5 linked regions of the Homo sapiens genome follow. The protein of the gene in region 5 interacts with the protein of the main gene of each other region in a pairwise test. Each region holds a gene or a part of one and is shown on either strand. Other genes may lie near its edges. The genes, in order: ARL3, TUBGCP5, ATP7A, PTPN2 and TMEM132D.

Region 1 (4,426 bases), on a different chromosome or scaffold from region 5:
GGCATATAATTTAATCTCCCAGCCCAAGAAGAAATTCCTTCAAACTGAGTCTTAGAATTATGCAAAATGGTTGTATTTGTTATTCACATTGTACCAGGCAATAATTCAAACCAGTTTGTTCACTAAGATCAAAGGATACTTCTGAGAAATAATTCTCAACAACTGCATCTTTGGACAATCATACGCAAATATGCATAATTATTAAGAATTCCTTTCTGCCTCAGAGACTCTTTGTTTACCACTTCTAGTACTGTATCTGTACTGACTTGCTAAGGACCACATTAACCTTTCTATGCCTCAATTTTTTCCAGCAGTAAGATGGAAGGTTTAGTCTAAGCTAGACAAATTCTATGCCAAAAGATTTGGGGGACAGAGATTGAATAGATTGGAAACAAACAGAAGTCTGGCTTTTTAAAAGGCCAGACTTTTTTTTCCTTTTTCTTTTTTTTGGGGGGACAGGGTCTTCCTCTGTGGCCTAGGCTGGAATGTAGTGGCGTGAACACGGCTAACTGCAGCTTCGACTCCCTGGGCTCAAGCGATCCTCCCACCTCAGCCTCTCCAGTAGCTGGGACTACCGGCTCACACCACCACGCCCCACTAAGTTTTGTATTTTTTGTAGAGATGGGGTTTTGCCATGTTGCCCAGGCTGGTCTTGAACTCCTAAGCTCAAGCGATCCACCCAAAGGCAAGATTTTTTTTTTTGCTGTTTTTATCTCATCTGGTCTTGAATACTTTGACAGCATTCCTTCTTAAAACTATATTTACAAGAAGTCTCCCTGGTTTCTATTAGCTATATTGCAATCACTCATTTATAATATCACCTTTCAGAAAAGTAAAAATTAAAATTCTGAGATCCTTAGGGGACTGGTGACATAAAAAGGCTAAGAGGAAAACCCATTTTACTACTCATCCTGAGTTCCTGATTGTAAGTGAAAAGAAGAGGTCTCATTACCTCTTAAAATAAATTATAAAACATCTGGAATTTATCAAATTAGTACATTAAATGACACAGGCAAAGTTCTTCTCATGCATTTTCTGCTTAGTGCAGAAATTATGAAGGAAGATCTGTTTCCTATTTTAAAAAAAATTTTTTTTGGCCGGGTGTGGTGGCTCACACCTGTAATTCCAGCACTTTGGGAGGCCGAGGTGGGTGGATCACTTGAGGTCAGGAGTTCGAGACCAGCCTGGCCAACATGGCGAAATCCCGTATCTACTAAAAATACAAAATTAGCCGGGTATGGTGGCACATGCCTGTAATCCCAGCTACTTGGGAAGCTGAGGCAGGAGAATTGCTTAAACCCAGGAGGTAGAGGTTGCAGTGAGCCAAGATCATGCCTCTGCACTCCAGCCTGGACAACAAAAGTGAAACTCCATCTCAAAACAAAAACAAAAAATAAAACCATATATTATATATATATATATATATATATTTTTTTTTTTTTTGAGACAAGGTCTCACTCCTAATGCCAGGCTGGAGTACAGTGGTGAAATCATGGTTCACTACAGCTTCAGCCTCCCAGGCTCAGGTGATCCTTCCACCTCAGCCTCCGGAGTAGCTGGGACTATAGATGTGTACAACCGCACCCAGCTAATTTTGTGTATTTTTAGTAGAGACAGGGTTTCACTATGTTGCCCAAGCTAGTCTCAAACTCCTGGCCTTAGGCAATCTGCCCGTGACGGCCTCCCAAAGTGCTGGGATTACAAGAGTGAGCCACTGCACCCGGCCTATAAAATATTTTCAAAGTTTAAAATTAATGTTTTGGGTTTTTCCTCATGTGTCTCTTTTAAAGAAGTTACTAAAAATACTGTTTTTTTTTTCAGGCAGAGACTTGCTCCACACTCATTACATTTGATATTAAAGAATTAAGAGAAAAACAAGGCCAGGCACAGTGGTTCACACCTGTAATACCAGTGCTTTGGGAGGCTGAGGCAGGAGGATAGCTCAAGGCCAGGAATTCAAGATCAGCCTGGGCAACAAACACGAGACACATATCCCTACCAAAAAAAAAAAAAAAAAATTATCCAGGTGTGGTGGTGTGCACCTGCGGTTCCAGCTACTCAGGAGGCTGAGACAGAAGGATGGCTTGAGCCCAAGAGTTTGAGGCTGCAGTGAACTATGGTCGGGCCACTGCATTATGGGCTAGGTGACAGAGCAAGACTCTGTCTCAAAAAAAAAAAAAAAAAAAAAGAGACAAACATAATGTTTATTCACCTTAAAAGGAGAGGAGCAAAGCACAGATAAGAAAGAAAAAGAAATCATTCTAACTATAAGGCTGAGTGCAGTGGCTCATGCCTGTAATCCCAGCACTTCGGGAGGCTGAGGCTGGCGGATCATTTGAGGCCAGGAGTTTGAGACCAACCTGGCCAACATGGTGAAACCCTGCCTCTACTAAAAATACAAAAAATTGGCCAGGCATGGTGGTGGGCACCTATATTCCCAGCTACTTGGGAGGCTGAGGCAGGAGAATCGCTTGAACCTGCGAGGTGGAGGTTGCAGTGAGCCGAGATCACACCAGTGTACTCCAGCCTGGGCCACAGAGCTAGACTGTTTCAAAAAAAAAAAAAATTCTAACTATAGATAAACTTTATTAACCTAATGGTGTAGAATACAGTGCTTCTACATTTCTAATGAGTAATTTTCCTTATTAGGAAATAATAACTTCAGATACTTCACCTTTGAGTGAAATTACAGAGAAATGCAAAGTTCAGCTAATGTTTTCTTCCAGCAAAATGATAAATGGCATTTCAAGCATGGTCTAGGGAAGACAAGTGCAAATATAATACAGCATCATATTAATCCAACTACTGAGGATGGGATCACAGGATTATCAGGGTTTGCTAAATAGGGAAGAGGATATTTATAGAGATCAGGGTTCTGCCTGAAAGGTACAAAGTAAGCTGATTTAAGAGGCTGGATGAAAGAGACCAGAATAAGTCTATTCTGTGCATCTATACATATATGCCCATATTTTATTTTAACTGTCAAATGAAGGGAGACAGCGATTAGAAGTTAAATTTATCATAGGGCTGAGTTTTGCAGTATAAATACAATGACATTAATTTTTAAAGTGCATTTTTTGGCCAAAATATCCATTCACGCAATTATCATTAAACACCCTTAATGTGCCCCAAGTACAACAGTGAGCAAAACGGGCATGATCTCTATGTAGGATTTATATTCCTGTGACATTAAATAAAACAATTTAAGAAACATGAACTTCAGTTAAAAGTATATTGTGTGTTACCAGCATGTGTGTATACAAGTTATCTACACCCTGGTGGGCAGAAGTGGTCTGACTCAACCACAAAACATTTAAACAAACTTTTCTACAGTCAAATCATGAATAGATGTGCTATGGACTACAGACGTTTTATCTGCCTCGAAATCAGCTTAAACTACTGGCAGAGGCATGGTGCCCTGACCTAAAACAATACAAACTAGGTCATTCAAAGAAACCAGAGTGGTGGAGGGAGAAGGAATGCGTTGGTATATGGAAAATATATGTGGTTGTGAGGACCAGCTAAAATTTGAATTCTGAAATTACGAAGCCAACAGTCAAGTACATACGGTCCCCATAACTAGCTTAAATATAACTGACTTCCATTTGTTTTTACGTCTTTCAACTGAACTCCTATCAGCTTAAAGCTCAAAATTGAGAACTTAATCCAAACTGTGTCTTCTTTCTCATCACCCTCTCCTAAATAAATACAAACAATGTTTCCTAAGGAACAAAGTCTGAGCATCTCCTCAGGAAGAGTGGGTTCCCACTTCACCAGAGTCCTAATGAAATGAATGTTATGGGCTTTAGAATTTCACAGACTTGTATTCAGCTTCTGTGTGTGTGTGTGTGTGTGTGTATATATATATATATATGTATGTATATGTATCTGTATATATATATGTATATATATGTATGTGTGTGTGTGTTTTTATATATATATATGTATATACATAACACTGCACACAGTTTCAGCTAGAAAATAGGAACAGGCCGGGCGCGGTGGCTCACGCCTGTAATCCCGGCACTTTGGGAGGCCGAGGCGGGCGGATCACGAGGTCAGGAGATACAGACCATCCTGGCTAACATGGTGAAACCCCGTCTCTACTAAAAACACACACACACAAAATTAGCCGGGCGTGGTGGCGGGCGCCCATAGTCCCATCTGCTGCGGAGGCTAAGGCAGGAGAATGGCGTGAACCCGGGAGGCGGAGCTTGCAGTGAACGGAGATCGCGCCACTGCACTCCAGTCTGGGTGACAGAGCAAGACTCCGTCTCAAAAAAAGAAAAAAAAAAGAAGAAAACAGGAACAATACTTACATCTCAAGAGATGATGCTATGAGGATGAAATGAGGTCATGTATGTAAAGCATGACACATAACAGCCACTGAAAAGACTACCCTCGTGTTTTGTTTATTTTTTTAAAA
Region 2 (4,426 bases), on a different chromosome or scaffold from region 5:
TTTTTTGTAGAGATGGGGTTTCGCCATGTTGGTCAGGCTGGTCTCGAACTCCTGACCTCAGCTGATCTGCCCCCACTGGCCTCCCAAAGTGCTGGGATTGCAGTTGTGAGCCATGGAGCCTGGCTGCCTTTTTTTTTTTTAGACAGAGTTTCGCTCTTGTTGCCCAGGCTGGAGTGCAATGTAGCGATCTCGGCTCACCACACCACAACCTCTGCCTCCTGGGTTCAGCAATTCTCCTGCCTCAGCCTCCCAAGTAGCTGGGATTACAGGCATGCACCACCACGCCTGGCTAATTTTGTATTTTTAGTAGAGATGGAGTTTCTCCATGTTGGTCAGGCTGGTCTCGAACTCCTGACCTCAGGAGATCCGCCCACCTCAGCCTCTCAAAGCACTGGGATTACAGGCGTAAGCCACTGTGCTCGGCTTTCTTTCTTTCTTTTTTTTTTTTTTAAAGAAATATCAAACACTTTGTAAGAGAGAACTTCAGAAGGGGTTTCCATGGCCCACTGCCCAGCCATGGCAGGTGCCACATGCCAAGCTTACACCTCCACAGCCCCACCACAATATTCAGAAGCAAACAGGAGACATCAGAGCACCACAGTCATGAATATTTCATAAGTATAAATGTATACTTTAAAGATAAAGACTCCTTTCAAAACACAGCCACAACACCATTTGCTCAAAAATATCATCTAATAGCATTCAAGCAAATTTCACATTGCTTCTACAATTTTTCACTTTTCGGCTTTAAGTCTCAATCAGGAACAATTAACTTATCCATAAACTGCGATGGTTGATAGACTTCTTAAGTTCCTCACCCCCTGTATTTTTCTCACATTTATTTGTAAAAAAAACCTGAAAGAGTTGAATTTCAGCAAAGCATATGCAGCAGTGTTATTTCTCCTCCACCCCAAAGTGAGACAAAAAAAAAAGAAAAAAAAAAAGCAAAATATATTTTGCACACTTTGAGCCAGCAATATAAAGCGAGGAAGACTTCTATTTCCATCCCTGCAGCTATGGCTTCATCTACTACCTTAGTTTCTTGATTCCGAGTACAGCCAATGGGAGATTTCGAATTATACTAGCACTCAAATGAATTCTTACTTCCTTACTGACATGGAGTAAGTACAGTCAACCAAACATGCACTTTTATTTCATGGAAGTAACAGCAGAATTACTGTTGCACTGACTTTATAAACAGGACAGGTAACAAAATATTGAGCTGTACACTGGAGTTAACAGTAGAGGATGGCAGTGCTAGAGGGAGCTGCTCCCGGGCCACTTCCCCTGATTCAGTGCACTTGCCTATGTGATGTGTGTGAATAACAAACACTCTCAAAACACAGCATCTTTTAGAGCTCATCCAAAATACAACTTTGGAGAATAGTCTAGCATGATGTCCAGAATTTGATTTAAAATAATTCAGCAAGTGTGACTGGGGAGGTGGGCACAGACATGACAGAGCTGTCCTCACTGGCACAGCTGAAGCAGGTGCCATCACGGTGTTCACAACACTGTCTTTGCCACTTCAGTTTGAAGGTGTCCATGATAAAAATTTAACAAAACGTACACAATATAACATGAGTATAATCTAAAAATGTTTGCTTGTTTAAATCAGAAGACCTCAGATTTTTAAAAATGTTTTACTTCTCAAAAAATACTTGCACTTTTTTTTTTTTTTAAAGACTGGGTTTTGCTATGTTGCCCAGGCTAGTCTTGAACTCCTGGGGTCAAGCAATCCTCTCCTCTCAGCCTCCTGAATGGCTGGGAAGACCCTGTCTCTAAAAAAAAGGGAAGCTGAAGCTGAAATGGTCACAGTGCAGATGCTGCAGAAATCACATACTTACCGCCAAGTGCCCAGGCCTGCCTGCCAACCGTCTGCAAACATGAGAGCCAAGTTCAACACCTTCATGATAGCTTCTTTCACAAAGCTGACCTGCAGACCAAAGTCACAGAACACAAACTGTGTAACTAGGTTTGGACACTGATACCAACACTTTTACCTATTTTAAATGAATCACAGAAAAAGTTCATCACCACAGTGACTGCCTTCTGTGTATATGGAAGGGTACTAGGCTCTGAACCATGCCCATTTGGGACCAGGCACATGCATTCACTGAATGTAAGATACAAGTGATATTAGCAGTACAGTCAAACCAACAAAACAAACTATTAAGACCTTTTCCTGGGATGGCCATTTAAATTCACCAATGAAACTAGGACAAATAATTGCAATGGTTTTAACATTACTGAATTCTATCTATTCACATGAAGTGGACATGCTATTGCTCCGCAACTGCAGACACAATTTTCCAAATGAATCCAAGAGTAACGCAGAGTGAGTGTTGACTATCACACATAGTTCTCATGTTGCTCTTAGATACAATTTCTACGAATAGGGCACTCCTCCTTCTGTTTTTTTTTTTTTTTTTTTTTTTTTTTTTAAGAGACAAGGTCTTGCTCTGTTACCCAAGCTGGAGTGGAGTGCAGTGGTGTCAGATCATAGTTCACTGCAGCCTCAAACTCCTGGCCTCAAACAATGCTCCCACCTCAGCCTCCCAAGTAGCTGGGCCTCCAGGTATGCACCACCATGTCTGCTAATCTTTTTAACTTTTTGTAAAGACAGAGTCTTGCTATGTTGCCCAGGGTGGTCTTGAACTCTTGGCCTCATAAGATCTGCCTGCCTCAGTTTCCCAATGTGCTGGGATTACAGGCATGAGCCATTGTGGCCGGCCTGGGGCATTTGTTTGTAACCTCATTTCATCTGGTTCTTCCTTAAAGAATATTCTACAGGACAGAAGCTTAATCATCATAAAATTCCAAAGCACGCAGACAGCGCCACTCGCCCAGCAGTGGCCACATCTGCAGGAGACATCTCATGTACCTTTTCTCTCAGCAGACACCGGTCATGGATGGTTGACAGATACCTATAGTGAATTTTAATCAATTGATCTAAATCCTTGGCTTCCTCGACTTGATGTTGAAACTCCAGCCCTGTACTGTGTAGAATCTTGGAAGAGAAAGATAAAAAGCTTCATCAGCAGCCTTCTTTGAGGACTTGTGTGCTGCACACAAATCTTTTTTACTAAGCTCTTCTACTCCTCTCAAATTCTTCCTTCAATAAGCACATCTAGACAGTTTCATAAAGTACCATTCTTCAAAGGCTGGCTGGATACTCTGGCGTTCTGATCCTAAGAGGACGGCGGGGGCAATCCTGTAGGACGCCCACTTGCACAGTGAATGAATGAACGCCAAACTCTGGACTAACAGACTTCCTGGCAGGAAGGGGCAAGCACATTAAGCTGTATATAAGACACATCGATAAAAAAAAAATCAAGTAAATGTGTTACTTTTATACAAATAATTACAGTGAATTTATGTTTCTTAAGTTCCTTTTCTCATACATTGATCTTTCTCTAAAATGAGTATAAGTATACCTCAAATAAAAAACAAACTAAGAAAAAACTTAAACTCTTATCATTTACTCTTAACAATTAGGGGCTTAATGAAGGCCAACCTTGTGAAGGCAGTAATGCAGTCAGGGGAAACGTGGAGCCCCTCTGCCATAGCCTTCCCATCCAAAACACAGGCTTCAGTGGCTCACTTCACCCAAGCAAGTTGGGTTTCAGAACTCACAGACCAGGTATAAACAGGTCTAAACAACAATTCAAACCCCAAATGCATACTGTCCTCTAATAATACTGCTCTTGTTCCAATTTCTGAACGCTTCTTTTAGAACTTCCCCTAGAACTGGCTTTTAGATGTATCAGAAAAATAATTTCATTTACTTTGTAGTGAGTTCTTGTTTTTAAGAAAAAAGTCTATAACCTGGCTGCATCTTCCTCCCACACACCGTAGTGGATTTTGGCTGTTATTAAACATTGGAGCCATTTTTTAGGGACAGCTGTCACCACTATTGAAACCTAAAGGACTATGCGGCACATTCTGAAGGCAATTCCAGAAGACGAGCTGTGGCTGTGCCTGTCCCCAGGGGCTGCTGGACTGGAGGGACAACAGCCTCTGGATACACATATTCCGGTATATTTACAAAAACATTCCTCCCACTGCCATGTTATTTTATGATCAAATTTGCTACATGTCCCGTTTTCACAGTCTGTAGGTATTTTTTACTTATAAACATAGTATGAGTAATTCTCTACGAACAACTGTATAGATACGACGATAGAACTGAAGCAGATGGGAGAGGCACAAACCCTGGTCATGATGTAGTTGTGCAAGCTGTTCACGAAATGCATGAGCTTCACTCTTAAGAGGAACATGCGATGAATCTGCTGTCTTACTGGTTCTTTTTGTGGTCCGAACTGAGCAACTGTGTCTTGTTCATGTATAAGGCCTTCTTTAAGTCGTGGTTTTTCTGCAGTACTAACCAGTTCTATAAAACATTGGAAGAGCAAAGTGGACAGAA
Region 3 (4,426 bases), on a different chromosome or scaffold from region 5:
ATGTGATTTCTTTTGGGAGTGATAAAAAGTTCTAAAATTATATAGTGATGATGGCTGGAAAACTCTGTAAGTATACTAACAACCACTGGGTTGTGTACCTTAAATGGGCAAATTTTATGGTATGTGAACTATGTGTCAATTTTAAAAAGTGAGAATTCTATAATTTCTACCATTTGTCACCAACAGAAAAATTAAGAACTAAAAATTAATAATGGTATGTCTCTAAGTCCTCTCTCACTGACATTAATCTACCATAACAATTTAGACATGTGTTTAGTAAAATTTTTTACTCAGATTTAGTGAGCCTAAAAAGGGAATACTACTATTTGATATCTTTCATTCTAATCAGGATAGCAAAGATTAATTATATTGTCCAGAAATTGGTTGTAAAACGTTTCAATTGTTATTTCAAGCAAAAAATTTCATTTGGGCATTTTCCAGTTTAATTCAAGGCCAGGTTCAATTCTGGTTCAAAAGAACAATTTCACATAATTAAATTCCATTGAATATACATTTTTTGTTTCAGTTCAAAGGTAAGAGCTGTCAGGAAATACGAAAACTTTGGGACAGCTCTGGAGTCAGTTTAATTTGAATGCCTAAATATAAAATTATAGTTAAAATCCTATTATTTATTTCAACTACTTTTGTTTTTAAAAGAGCACTGGCTTCCCCCATTATATAAATACATAGCTACATACATACATTCTTATTGTAAAAACAACTTATAAAACCAGGAAACACAATGGAAACAAAAATCACATTTATCCTACCACCCAAAGATAATCACTGTTAAAATTTTGGTTCATATCCTACCAGGAATCTTATTCATATACATAAACAATATATACATGGCGTAAATTCAGATACATTTCTTTATAAAATTTTGATCACATTGTATATATAGCTTTTCAGCTTTTTTTCATTTAACAAAATACCTCAGACACCTTCCTGTGGCATTAATTATCTTTAATACCATAATGTTTTATGACTTCATAGCATTTCATCATGAGTTATTTATTGTTGCACCACGAGTTATTGTTTCCAGTTTTTAAATATCATAAGCAATTATACAAACATCCTTATGCATCTTTGTATATACTGCTGGCTACCTCCATAGGACATATTTGCAAAAGTGGAATTACAGTGCCTATGAATCATTTCTCATTGATAAATGCCAAAAGAAGCAGCAAAATGGAAGTAAAAGAACATTAGGGTAATCAAAGAAAAAATGATAATTACCTGACAAGGTAGCATCAAATCCCATGTCTTCTATTGCTCCTCTCAACGTTTCTGGAGAGGTTAGTAGAGGATCATACTCAACAGTCCCATTGCTATTTGCAAGGGAGACTCGTATGGATTTTACACCTGGCTTTTTTGATATGACACCCTCAATAGACTGCACACAGGAATTACAAGTCATGCCATCAATGTTTATCACAGTTTCTTGTGTCAGAGGCTGGCTAACTACATTCAAAGGAATCTTCTGAAGAGATGAGCTGGAGGGAGAGTTTGAGGTACTCTCAACTTCACTTGTGATACTAACTCTATATAGCCCCGGTGATACAGCCTCTATTGCTTTTCTCAGGGATTCTGGAGTGACTGAGCTTGCATTATACTTCACAATGGCAGACCTATTCTCTAAAGAAACTACTATGCTGCTTACATATTGGAGTGCAGATAAAGTACTTTCAATATTTGACACACATGATTTACAATGCATGCCATCAATGATGAAAGTGGCTGTTGAATCATTGGTATATGATGGACTCCTTTGCTGTGACCCTTCTGAGGATTTAACTGGTGTGTTCTTTAGACGTTCTACATCAATAGCTCCCAATTTGAGGTACTTGGGCTGCTTTTTGACAAATGCTGGAAAGCCCATAGCTTCAATCTGCTTTTTCATTTCCTCTACTGAGATAAGATGAGGTTGATAAACAATAGTAGCTTCTTGATTGTCCAGGGAGACTAGTTAATAAAAAGAAATATAATTAATTCAGTTATTCCTGGGCTACTTCAGAAAACATTCTGTTTTCTAAATCAATAACCACAAATAATTGTTTCTCTCTCATTCTTGTCATCATATTTTCTTAATTTTTTTTCTTTTCAGAAAATGTTATTGGCATAGACTAGAAACAAGTAAGAGATATGACCACTGTAGCTATGGTCTCCAAGTTTCTCCATGCCTAAGTAAAATATATTAGAGGTAAAGAGTACCCTAGTCATGTTGTGTTAAGAACCTTGAATTCCATGAATTGCCAACCCAGCTGCCTTTTCTTCAGTTCAAGGTTTATGTAACCTTTAATTATAATCATTAACTTTTAATCCTGGGAATATGCTGTACCTCAATGATACAGCAAGCACTCTAGTCTCATGGATTCAAAACTCATGCTTAAGAAGAAAGCAAAAAGTTAAAAGATCAAAACAGACACCTAAGCCTTACAAAACAATCAACACCAGACACATTACCTTTAATTCGCTGAACACCTTGCAGTTTCCCAATTTTTCCTTCAATAGTGCTAGTACATGAATGGCAGGTCATCCCTTCCACTTTCATCTTCAGCACGACTTCACCAGCTTGAGCCATACTATGATCTTCACAAGCTCCTGACTTTTTCTCCAGTGTCCCAGTATCTAAACTGAGTTCTGGAACCAGCTCTTTTATCTGATTGGCATTCACTATAGAAGGGATTATTGTCACTGCTACAGTTCTTTTCTGAGGGTAAATTTTAATGTCTGTCACACCCTTGGTCTTCAGCAATGTGCTTTGGATATGGTCCCATGGCAAAGTCAGTGACGCCGTAACAGTCAGAAACAAGGTGTCAGTTAAAACAGGGAGAGGGTCAGGATTATGGATAACAGCATCAAAGCCCATGTCATCAATAGCTTCCTGTAGGGTCTTTGGAGTCTGTAGTTTAGGGTCATAAATAATAGTTGCATTTTTTTCTTCCAGTGATACCTTTTGGAAGGAAATTCCAAAAGTCAGTTTAATTAAATTCTATCACACAGGATTTAAAATAATAATCATCACACCACATTCAAGAAGAGTGAGACAACTCAATCTAATGGAGTTTCCCTATTAGTTTTCATTTTTACTCTTCTTGTTAGAAAGAAACATAAAATGTCTTGTGTACCTACAAGAATGGTAAAGTTATATATGCAGACATATGTGACTGTGGTACCTATCAGGCATTTGAAACATGTATATTGACAAACACACCCAAGAATTTCACAACAGAGTACAAACTACTCTTTCCTTCCATTCCTTTCATAAATTACTCCAACACTTCACACTCTACCAACTGAAAAGGTTATACATGAAACAGGATCAGCTACAGAAAAATAAAAGGTAATATGAAGTTTAATATTTTAAAATGTCCAATTTCCTAAAAATATGTATAACTATTATATGTCAATTTAAAAAAATAAAAATAATGTTCAATTAGGATAACTTTGTTGGCAAGAAAAGTATAAGCCTGCCGGTTTATGAGTGAAGGCAGTATTCATAGGATTTTATAGCATATACTCCTATATCCCCCTAAGTCACTAGAGCATACTATTAATTTTGTTCAAAATAAGAACATCTTTATTGTTTTGCCCAATTAGATTATAAAACAATGATTATATTCTTGTAGCTTAGTTACTGCATATAATTTAACTACTGTCATGATTGCATCTCTTTGGCTGACATCTTACAAAGATTCATGATGAAGACACACACACACACACACACACACACACACACACACACACACAAATACTGGGTTGGGAGTCAGAAGATTTAAGTTCCAGCATCAATTCTCCACTTATTAGCTAACCACACCCATTAGTTCTACCATCTGAAAAATGAGAAAATATGCCCTATTATCTTCCAGGGCTATTACAAGGATCATACGAGTAAATAGGAAAGTTCTTCGTAACAGCAGTGAATTATATAAAATTAAACATTGAGCAACTAATATTTATTGAGCACTTATTATGTGCGTCAGGAACTGGGATTCTCAGGATACAAAGCTGAACATGTCACAGGAACAATAGGACAGAGAATACAGAAAAGGGATACCCATTCATCCCTGGGAATATGGGTCAGAAAAGTATTCTTAGGAGAGATAATACCTGAATGTTAAAGGACAAACAGGAATCAGCAAGGATATATGAGGCAGAGAATTCCAGATGAATGGAAACAAAAAAGTAGAGAAAGATAAGAGGCTTGAAAATTAGGCAACTGCTCTATTATGGGGTTCTATATGCCAATAATGGTTGTGATTTATCCTATAGGTAATAGGAAGCCATGGAAAAGTTAAGCAGAGAATTATGTGATTAGATTTTCATTTTAGAGAAGGATCATTCTGGAGGCAGTGTGGAAGATGATAGTGTAGTAGGGTGGAGTGATACAGGAGGGAGGACTATCAGCTAGGAGGCTACTGCA
Region 4 (4,426 bases), on a different chromosome or scaffold from region 5:
GATGACTGTCTATTTTCTTTGTTCCCTTGTTTGTTTTGTTACTCAATCCAAATCTTTTATAGTGAAGACATGGAGTACTTGCTACTCTCCATGCCATATTCTAACACTTCAAATGTGCTAGCTCTTAATCCTCACAATAACCTTAGGAGATAAGCACTAATACTAATATTACCATTATTACACCCTTTTTACGGAAGATGTGGGGAGAATAATTAGGTAACTCGCCCAAGGATATGCACCTAACAAATAGTAGAGACAGAATTTTAACCTAGGCAAGTCTGGGTTGACTATGCTGTGACCCCTTATAAAGATGTGTGTTCAACAAAGTACCCCACAAAAATGTTAAATTGTCTCCAGAATTTACACTGGTCAATTTTTGAAGTTTCCACTCTTGACTGAGACCTAGTTATGTAACTTGGCCTTATAGCTGGACAACACTCAACAATGTCAACAAATAAGATGACACCAAAAATCAAGTCTCACTGGACCACTTCCCAGAATATGCAACAAATTCAGAATACGTCAACAAGGAAAGCACTCGGCAGAGAGAGAAATAAAAGAGATATTTAATGCTAGTGAATTAAAAAAACCCCACAAACCCAACAATGTCATTTTGCCATGGCTATGTTCAGCAAACTCACTCATGGCTATGTTCGACAGACTCATTCATGGCTATGATCAGCAGACTCACTCGTGCCTATGTTCAGCAAACTCACTCATGCCTATATAGGTTCAGCAAACTCACTCGTCTCTGTCCTCCCTGTGACACACAAGGGAGCCAGCACTCCTGAGTCACCTGCCTCAGGTCATTAATGCTGACTGGTGAAGCCAAGGAATTACATTTCACTAAACTATAACCTCAAAGGAGCTCTCATTTTGAGGCCTGGTACTGTTTCATCTTTCTTTCTAATTCTGTGCTCACGTTGCACCAACCCATGAGTCACTGCCACTAGGAGCCATGCCCCCCACACAATGCCTAGAACCCTAGCTCTACCCATTTCTCTCACTGAAGAAAGCTTTAAGCAATGCAATTAAACTTCAAATCCTCTGTAATTTGTTAAAAGTTTATCATTTACATTTAATACTTTATTAGTAATATCAAATTACCAGCTAGAGATCTTACAACATTAGTTCTGAATTGCCAAACTAGATATTTACTCTGGGGGGTTAACTGTCATCATCAATACTGGGAATATGCTAATAAATATGTGGTAATACCAGCAACCAGCTTAAGTATTTATGCCTGACCTTGTGCTGAAAGGCAATTGCAAATAGCCTATATGTCTATAGGAATGTCAAAGTCATTGGAAGTTTTCTGTAAATGAATACATGCTTTAAGATTATAATTACACATATTTACAGACTTAAGATACAATCACTTTGGGCTGGGTGCGGTGGCTCACGCCTGTAATCTCAGCACTTTGGGACGCCGAGGTGGGCGATCACTTGAGGTCAGGAGTTCGAGACCAGCCTGGTCAACACTGTGAAACCCCATCTCTACTAAAAATGCAAAATTAGCCAGGAGTGGTGGCAGGCACCTGTAATCCCAACTACTCGGAAGGCTGAGTGGGGAGAACCACTTGAACCTGGGAGGCAGAGGCTGCAGTGAACCGAGATTGTGCCATTGCACTCCAGTCTGGGCAACAAGAGCAAAACTGCGTCTCAAAAAAAGAAAAAAAAACCAGTAGCATGTGTGGTATGTATTTATTAATCCAACTTTATCAGTAATCACTTCATATGCCGATGGTCTAAATGCACCAATTAAAAAAGATTCTCAGAATGCCAAGACCATTTCTGCAGAAATTAACCCCTTGGAATGGGCAGCATGCTTTTCTGATCCTGAGTACCTGAAGGATAAAGATGTTTCCAATATCCTATCTGGAATAGGGGCAGAAAATGCCTTAGAATTGAGAGCCTGAGGACAATATCACACCAGATAAATTAACAGAAAAAAAATCCTTCCTAGCCACAAACTGCACTGTCAAAGACTCCACAAAAAAGTGTGTCCAGAAAAACTCATCTCTGTGATAAAAAAAGATCCACCCTCAGATAAAGTATGTATTCTAAAACTAAAGACACAAAACTTAAAAAAAAAAAAAGCAGTGGTAGGAAAGACACAATCCAAAGGACAATACATTTCCCTCCCAGTTACCCGTCTCATCACAGCCAGGAAGCAGGCAGGGAAGGCGGCATGCAGGCTGTGAAGGCATGGGGAAATCTGATTGAACTACTTTTCTTTTTGAACTCCAGATTTAAGTTGGTGAAAGCTCACTGTGATTAGAAAGGGAAATTTTCCTAATCTTAAACATCTGAAATAACTTTTACTTCACCTAAATCACTGATCACTGCCAAAGTGACCCTGGCAAATCCAGTGTTCCCAAAGTCTGGCGTCTGAAGCAGGACATGTTCTAATGGGCTGAGTTTCCCAAACATTGCGTATTTTGGCTCTGAGTGCCCTAATGTTTCTGTGCATTAAGAATATTTTAATGCTATTTAAAGATTTGGAAAAAATCTTTTTAAATAAACCTTTATTCTGACACCAATGGTCCGATCTAATTTACATTCTTATATTGGCTAGTAATCAGAGAAATGAAAGTGCTAGTAAATATGTTCACACATGAGAAACATAATGAAAAGACAGTCGATCTTCTTATATTATGCATCAACTTACAGTATCTGCTTATGTCCAATACTATGTGATTAAACCAGACAAAAAATGGAGTCTGTGGTTGTTTCTATTTTACATTTTAACTTAGTACATAACACAAGTTTCTGATCAGTCTTTGAACTTAGGTTCTACAAATATGCAGTAAAAATAGCTTAATGAGAATAAAGCCACCAACCAGAAGAATATAACATTTTGCTGGAATTTCATTATATCTGCCATAAATATTCAAGTTGCTTGTTGTTATAAAGTCAAATATCACATAAACCAAGTATCAGTGTTTAATGAAGGCAAAAGTATCTCAAGTTTCCAGTTACTTTAATAATTAAAAGATTAACCACCCCCAAAATGAAAAATTCAGTTTCTTTAATGAAATCTTGTTTCTACAAGGGCTTTTAAGTAACACACAGGATTTAACCTGAGGCTGAGTATATATGAGGAAGCTAGCTAAAATTTTACAATTTTAAGACAGCCAGCTGGATTTACCACAAAAATTCAAATACACTCTTTGAAACAAAGACAAGGGCTCAAGTGGAGTGCAGTTATTTGATGCTATGTGTATTTAACAAATAGATATGATTTAAAACCTGTATGAAGTTTACCTGTATACTAGAATCTCCCTTTATACATTTTGCTCCTTCTATTATAGCCATGTATGAGAATCTCAGTTGATCTGGGGTCTGAATAAGACCCATTCGGTATTTTCTCATGTTCAGTAACACTTGTTTTATGTTAATATCATCTCCTTTTTCCATCTGCAAGAAAGGCAAAAAATGAGACAAGTCTTGTTATTGGAACCCAGGAAACAGAATCAATGCAAGATCATTGCTAAGATTTTTGCTATGCATTTTCTCCTCTGAAAGAACAACGATAATTTAACCCTCCAGCTATAACTGTTATGTACACAACAACTATCCCAGCCTACTCATCCCTCCCCACATCTCAACCCCTCAAGTAGTTGGAGGACTTTGATTCTTTAGCTGATTCACAACTGATTCCAAACCAATCATAGTAATCTCATTCCTTCTGGCCAGTCATTGGTTAAAGGAAGGATTTATAACCAGTTCTGGCTAGTATAAGGACTATTTTTTTTTTTAAAAGTCATGGCAGGAGTCAACCTTTCTGCTCATTCCCCTTCCGCCTCCTTCATGTCTGCACTACAGACACGATGTCTGGATATACAGCACCCATCTAACAATGGTGGAAAAGAGGCCAGGCATGATGGCTCATGCCTGTAATCCCAACACTTTGGGAGGCCAAATCACTTGAGGCCAGGAGCTAGAGACCAGCCTGGCCAACATCGCGAAATGCCATCTCTACTAAAAATACAAAAATTAGCTGGGTGTGGCGGCGCATGTCTGTAATCCCAGCTACATTGGAGGCTGAGGCTGGAGAATCGCCTGAACCCAGGAGGCGGCGGTTGCAGTGAGGTCAGATAGTGCCACTATACTCCAGCCTGGGCGACAGAGCGAGACTCCATCTCAAAAATAAATAAATAAATAAATAAATAAATAAATAAATAAATAAATAAATAAAAATGTGGTGGGTCACACCTGTAATCCCAGCACTTTGGGAGGCCAAGGTGGGCAGATTATGAGGTCAAGAGATTGAGACCTTCCTGGACAACATGGTAAAACCCCGTCTCTACTAAAAATACAAAAATTAGCTGGGCATGGTGGTACGCACTTGTAGTCCCAGCTACTCGGGAGGCTGAGGCAGGAGAATCTCTTGAACCCGGGAGGCGGAGGTTGCAGTGAGCTG
Region 5 (4,426 bases):
CTTGCTTTATGCAAAAAATGCATTACATTTTCTCAAGCAATACATATGATTCAGAAGGTGGTGTGAGTGGGAAAGGCCTGTTCTCATTCATTCTGGCTCACATGTTGCCCTGCCGCTGCCTGCACACTGGCACTTCCTCCTGTGACTGGAGGCATTGCCTGGACCACAGAAAGCCTTTCCTTGTCATGTCGCTTCTGCCCTCCAGATCCTGTCTCCTCTGTCAGACACCATCCTCGCTGAAAAGACCATCACTGTGCTGGACGAGAAGGTGACCATCACAGACCTCGGGGTGCAGCTGGTGACAGGGCTGTCACTCTCCTTGCAGCTCAGCCCAGGAAGCAACAGGGCCATCTTTGCCACTGCAGTGGCTCAGGAACTTCTGCAGAGGCCAAAACAGGTATGGAGGAGGGCTTGAGACACACTTCAGCAGGGTCCCTCACCAAGTGGATCACACACCAGGCAGGCACCACGCCAGGCGGGTCGCACAATAGAGTGGGATCATATATCGGGCGTTTGTTTCTCCATCTGCAAAGGGCTCTTCTGAAGCAGGTGACTCCTCTGCCTCATGTTTCCCAGCTCCCCCATGCAGAGATGAAAAAAATAAATACATATATACATAAGGATTGCAACATGTGAAAAATGAGAAGCCATTAAGGGGCAGGAGCCCTGGAGGAAAGGCCCACCCCTCATCCACCATAGTGCAAGTGCATGCAGGTGGTCACCTGTGCTCTCCACACGCTTCCTGCTTCCATGAGGGCATGAGGGCACGTGCAGGCTCAGAGCAGGTGCACAGCCTGATGCCAAGGTCCTGCTGGAGCGGAGGGTGACAGACCTGCTGAGTGGGGAGCCTGTGGCGGGAGATCGCTTCCAGACCATTCATTGTTCAGCTCAAGGCAGAAACAGAGAATTCATGGAGATGTCAGTCACAATTTTCTTTTACTTTATTTGGAACCAGTGTGAGCTAATAGAGTGTGTTTTGTGTGTTGTGTGCATATGTATATGTGTGTTGTGTGTCTATGTGTTGTGTACATATATGTTGTTTTTGTGTGTCTGTGTATGCATGTGTGTGTCTTGTGTCAGTATTTTGTGTTGCTTGTTTTGTGTTGTGTGTTGCATGTGTGCTTGTGTTGTATAGGCACCTGTATGCATGTATATATGTGTGTTGTGAATGTATCGTGTGTTGTATGTATGCATTGCATGTGTCTATTTGTTGTTTGTATGTGTGCATATGTGTGTGTGTTGTGGGTCTGTGTCATATATGTTTTTGCTTTATGTGTGTCCGTATGCATGTGTGTCTTGTGTATTTTCTGTTGTGTGTATGCTTGTGTTGTATAGGTGCCTGTGTGCATGTATATGTGTATGTGTGTTGTGTGTATGTGTGTGATGCATGTGTTTGTATGTGGATACAATGGCTTACAAAGGGGACTGTTATAGGGGACCTTTGAATGTAGTAAGTTCTCCCTCATTAGAGGTGGATAAACATTATTTCTTAGAACATAGGAATTTGGGTGAAGCTTGCTTAATAACAAAACATGGTGGTTGCAGGTCATTAGTTCTTTTGCCCCATGAAAAGGGATCATCCTCATGTGGGGCAGCTGGAATCCCTCCGGCCCATATGGGACATTGTTCTGACTGCTTCCCTTCTGGATCAGGAGCCTTTTCTGCGCACTCTTCCTCGGCAGGGTGAGGTACCAGGCCTTCCCTGCCTTCATGCACCAGCTGCGGCTGTGGCCATGTTCAGAGGAGGCAGGAGTGCCACACTGGACTTGCTAAGGGGCACAAAGAGCCTTCCCATTTTCCCAGCCTGCACCTGTCACATAATGCTCCCCTCTCAGGCATGAGCTAATCTCCTAGTCCTTATACTACAGTCTTTGTTTGCAGAGTTTTGGGTTAGAAAACACTTGAAAGTGGTTGATCCCAATAACAGAATCGAATTCTTGGCCAAAGCAAACCTCCTTTTCTCAAGGAAGGATGCCAGCCGAGAGGCAAGTTACAGATAGCAATGAAGAAATAACCTGAGGCTTTTCTCTGTCTTTGTGGGTGATAACATCAGCGGACCACCAGCTAGGCGTTAAGGAAGGGATAAGATGCAGCTAGAAGAAGGCCAGAAGGCTAATCCGTTCCTGACATGCAGAGCTAAACACGCTACCCTGAGATTTGCTCCATGGTTGGTTTGCAGGGCTCTTACTCCCTGCCTGCAACTTGGCTCTGACAGTGGTAGTTTCAAGAACTCCGTTGTGCGTTTGAATGCTCTGCTCAGATTTCATGGCCGATTGAGAGAACCTGGTAAGTCAGTGTCATGTCCAGTAGCTTTTGCACTGTGCCTTGGCAAGGTTATCCGCTTAGCAGGTAGTCCAAGCCAGTGTCTAACAGAATAAGTATTTCTTGGCTGAGCTGAAGGAAAGAGCAGAGGCCACCAGCCACATTTGAGGAGACTTTCTTCTTACTTCCAAAGACTAAACAACAACTGTGTAAAATTACTTCTGTCATGGTCAGGGGCCAGTAGGTCATAAGAGAAAAAAAAATCCACTCAAGCAAAAGCTTAAATAACAAAGGATGTGTTATGAGGATTATAGGGATCTCACAGAACCCAGCTGCAAGACCTTGGAGGAAAGGGAAGGTCAGCACTTTCATGCCCACTCTCTCTCTCACCTGTGTTTTTATTTTGGTCTAATTCATTATTGTCTTCCTATGGATAAATGCCATGCCCAAACATTTGCTTATACATAGTCCATCAGAGGGCTTCATTCCCCAATTTTATATGTGCCCCCACTACACATCTTCCCAAGCATAACTTTGTCAGTCTTGTCTTTCTGGTTTCAAGTTCGAGAGAGAGAGAGTAATGCTGGCTGGCTCAGCATTGCTGAGATTGATGGCTCTAATGGCAGCAGCTGTCTCATTTCAATCAGCTGTTGCTGTGGCCCAGCGGGCAGGGTCATGGGCCACCTAGTGCTGTTCATCATCTCGGGCTTGGGGCGGAGCAGGTTCTCTGAGAGGGAGGGAGGGAGGGAGGAAGCAATGGATCTGCCACTGCTGTCAAGCATAATGTCATCTTCACTAAAATTAAAGGCTGGCATGAAATTGGAGGTTATCTCCAATGATCTGCCTGGTCAAACTATTTGCAAAGAAAGTTGGTCTAAATCAACAAAGTGAAAACAAGCTCTGGCTGCTTTTTGGTCTTCCAGTTTCCTCCAGTTGGGTTGGGTGGAGGAAGAGATGAAGACTCTCCAATCAAGATGCTTCTCCCTCTCCTGCTGTCAGGCTTAACTCCTCCCTCCAAGCCAAGACTATGGCCTGAGGCCAGGACAGATCCACTCCTGCAGACCCAGAAAAGGCAGGGCTGGCAAAACCACAGCCTGCAGCCCTGCAGTGGGACCTCATCTAGATCAGAGGCTTTTATCTGTATTGCCAGTAATCAGTGGAGACTCAGTATTACAACTTAAAAATAATGTAATAAATATTTTTCATTTGAATGTGTAACACTTGTAAATGATTCCACTAACCAGTAATTTCCTTTGTCGTGCAATTTATTATTGTTCAGAAGTTGATTCTGAACAGCCCAAGGGCCCATCTTCCTTTTATAACAACACCTACAGGAGAAAAAAAAAAAAAGCAAATCTTCTTACGGATTGTTTAATACTGGCCCTGTTTTGTCATTTTGTTGTTGTTTTATTTTGCTTTTTTGCATCTTTGTGAGAATTCATTTTCTTTTATACTCTTGGTACTTCTTATCGCTTATTTCTACACTGTTTGAAAGGTTTGTCTTTGTTCTTGTAGCAATAGTTTTGCCGTTGTGTGTCTACTGTACTAAGACTTGGGGCTCAATGAGCTTTTTGGCCCATTTGATTAACTTACATATTTTTCTCCATAGGAAGCAGCCATCAGTTGCTGGGTCCAGTTCAGTGATGGCTCAGTCACGCCCTTGGATATTTACGATGGGAAAGACTTCTCCTTGATGGCCACATCTTTGGATGAGAAGGTAGTCTCCATCCACCAAGACCCCAAATTCAAGTGGCCTATCATTGCTGCGGAAACAGAAGGACAAGGCACCCTGGTCAAGGTGGAAATGGTTATTAGTGAATCCTGCCAGAAATCCAAGCGGAAGAGTGTGTTAGCTGTTGGAACGGCAAACATCAAAGTTAAATTTGGCCAAAACGATGCTAACCCCAACACCAGTGACAGCAGACACACAGGGGCAGGGGTTCACATGGAAAACAATGTCAGTGACAGAAGGCCCAAAAAACCCTCGCAGGAATGGGGGAGTCAGGAAGGACAGTACTATGGCAGTTCTTCTATGGGACTCATGGAGGGACGGGGCACCACGACAGACAGGTCCATCCTGCAGAAGAAGAAAGGCCAGGAAAGCCTTTTAGATGACAACAGCCACTTGCAGACCATCCCCAGCGACCTCACCAGCTTCCCAGCC

The links.
Region 1: the proteins of TMEM132D (region 5) and ARL3 interact in a two-hybrid assay, tested with the Homo sapiens proteins (one large-scale study listed by BioGRID).
Region 2: the proteins of TMEM132D (region 5) and TUBGCP5 interact in a two-hybrid assay, tested with the Homo sapiens proteins (one large-scale study listed by BioGRID).
Region 3: the proteins of TMEM132D (region 5) and ATP7A interact in a two-hybrid assay, tested with the Homo sapiens proteins (one large-scale study listed by BioGRID).
Region 4: the proteins of TMEM132D (region 5) and PTPN2 interact in a two-hybrid assay, tested with the Homo sapiens proteins (one large-scale study listed by BioGRID).

The regions. Positions count from the first base shown.
Region 1 is NC_000010.11:102,707,480-102,711,905, forward strand, and holds part of ARL3 (ADP-ribosylation factor-like protein 3), read right to left. Parts: intron 1-4,426. UniProt on the Homo sapiens protein: Small GTP-binding protein which cycles between an inactive GDP-bound and an active GTP-bound form, and the rate of cycling is regulated by guanine nucleotide exchange factors (GEF) and GTPase-activating proteins (GAP).
Region 2 is NC_000015.10:23,001,218-23,005,643, forward strand, and holds part of TUBGCP5 (gamma-tubulin complex component 5), read right to left. Parts: intron 4,394-4,426; coding exon 4,215-4,393; intron 3,011-4,214; coding exon 2,885-3,010; intron 1,937-2,884; coding exon 1,848-1,936; intron 1-1,847. UniProt on the Homo sapiens protein: Component of the gamma-tubulin ring complex (gTuRC) which mediates microtubule nucleation.
Region 3 is NC_000023.11:77,986,772-77,991,197, reverse strand, and holds part of ATP7A (copper-transporting ATPase 1), read right to left. Parts: intron 2,957-4,426; coding exon 2,467-2,956; intron 1,966-2,466; coding exon 1,240-1,965; intron 1-1,239. UniProt on the Homo sapiens protein: ATP-driven copper (Cu(+)) ion pump that plays an important role in intracellular copper ion homeostasis.
Region 4 is NC_000018.10:12,810,936-12,815,361, forward strand, and holds part of PTPN2 (tyrosine-protein phosphatase non-receptor type 2), read right to left. Parts: intron 3,421-4,426; coding exon 3,268-3,420; intron 1-3,267. UniProt on the Homo sapiens protein: Non-receptor type tyrosine-specific phosphatase that dephosphorylates receptor protein tyrosine kinases including INSR, EGFR, CSF1R, PDGFR.
Region 5 is NC_000012.12:129,074,505-129,078,930, reverse strand, and holds part of TMEM132D (transmembrane protein 132D precursor), read left to right. Parts: intron 1-205; coding exon 206-397; intron 398-3,855; exon of another isoform or gene 3,856-3,871; coding exon 3,872-4,426. UniProt on the Homo sapiens protein: Regulate neuronals morphology via inhibition of the WAVE regulatory complex (WCR), a complex that controls F-actin cytoskeletal dynamics.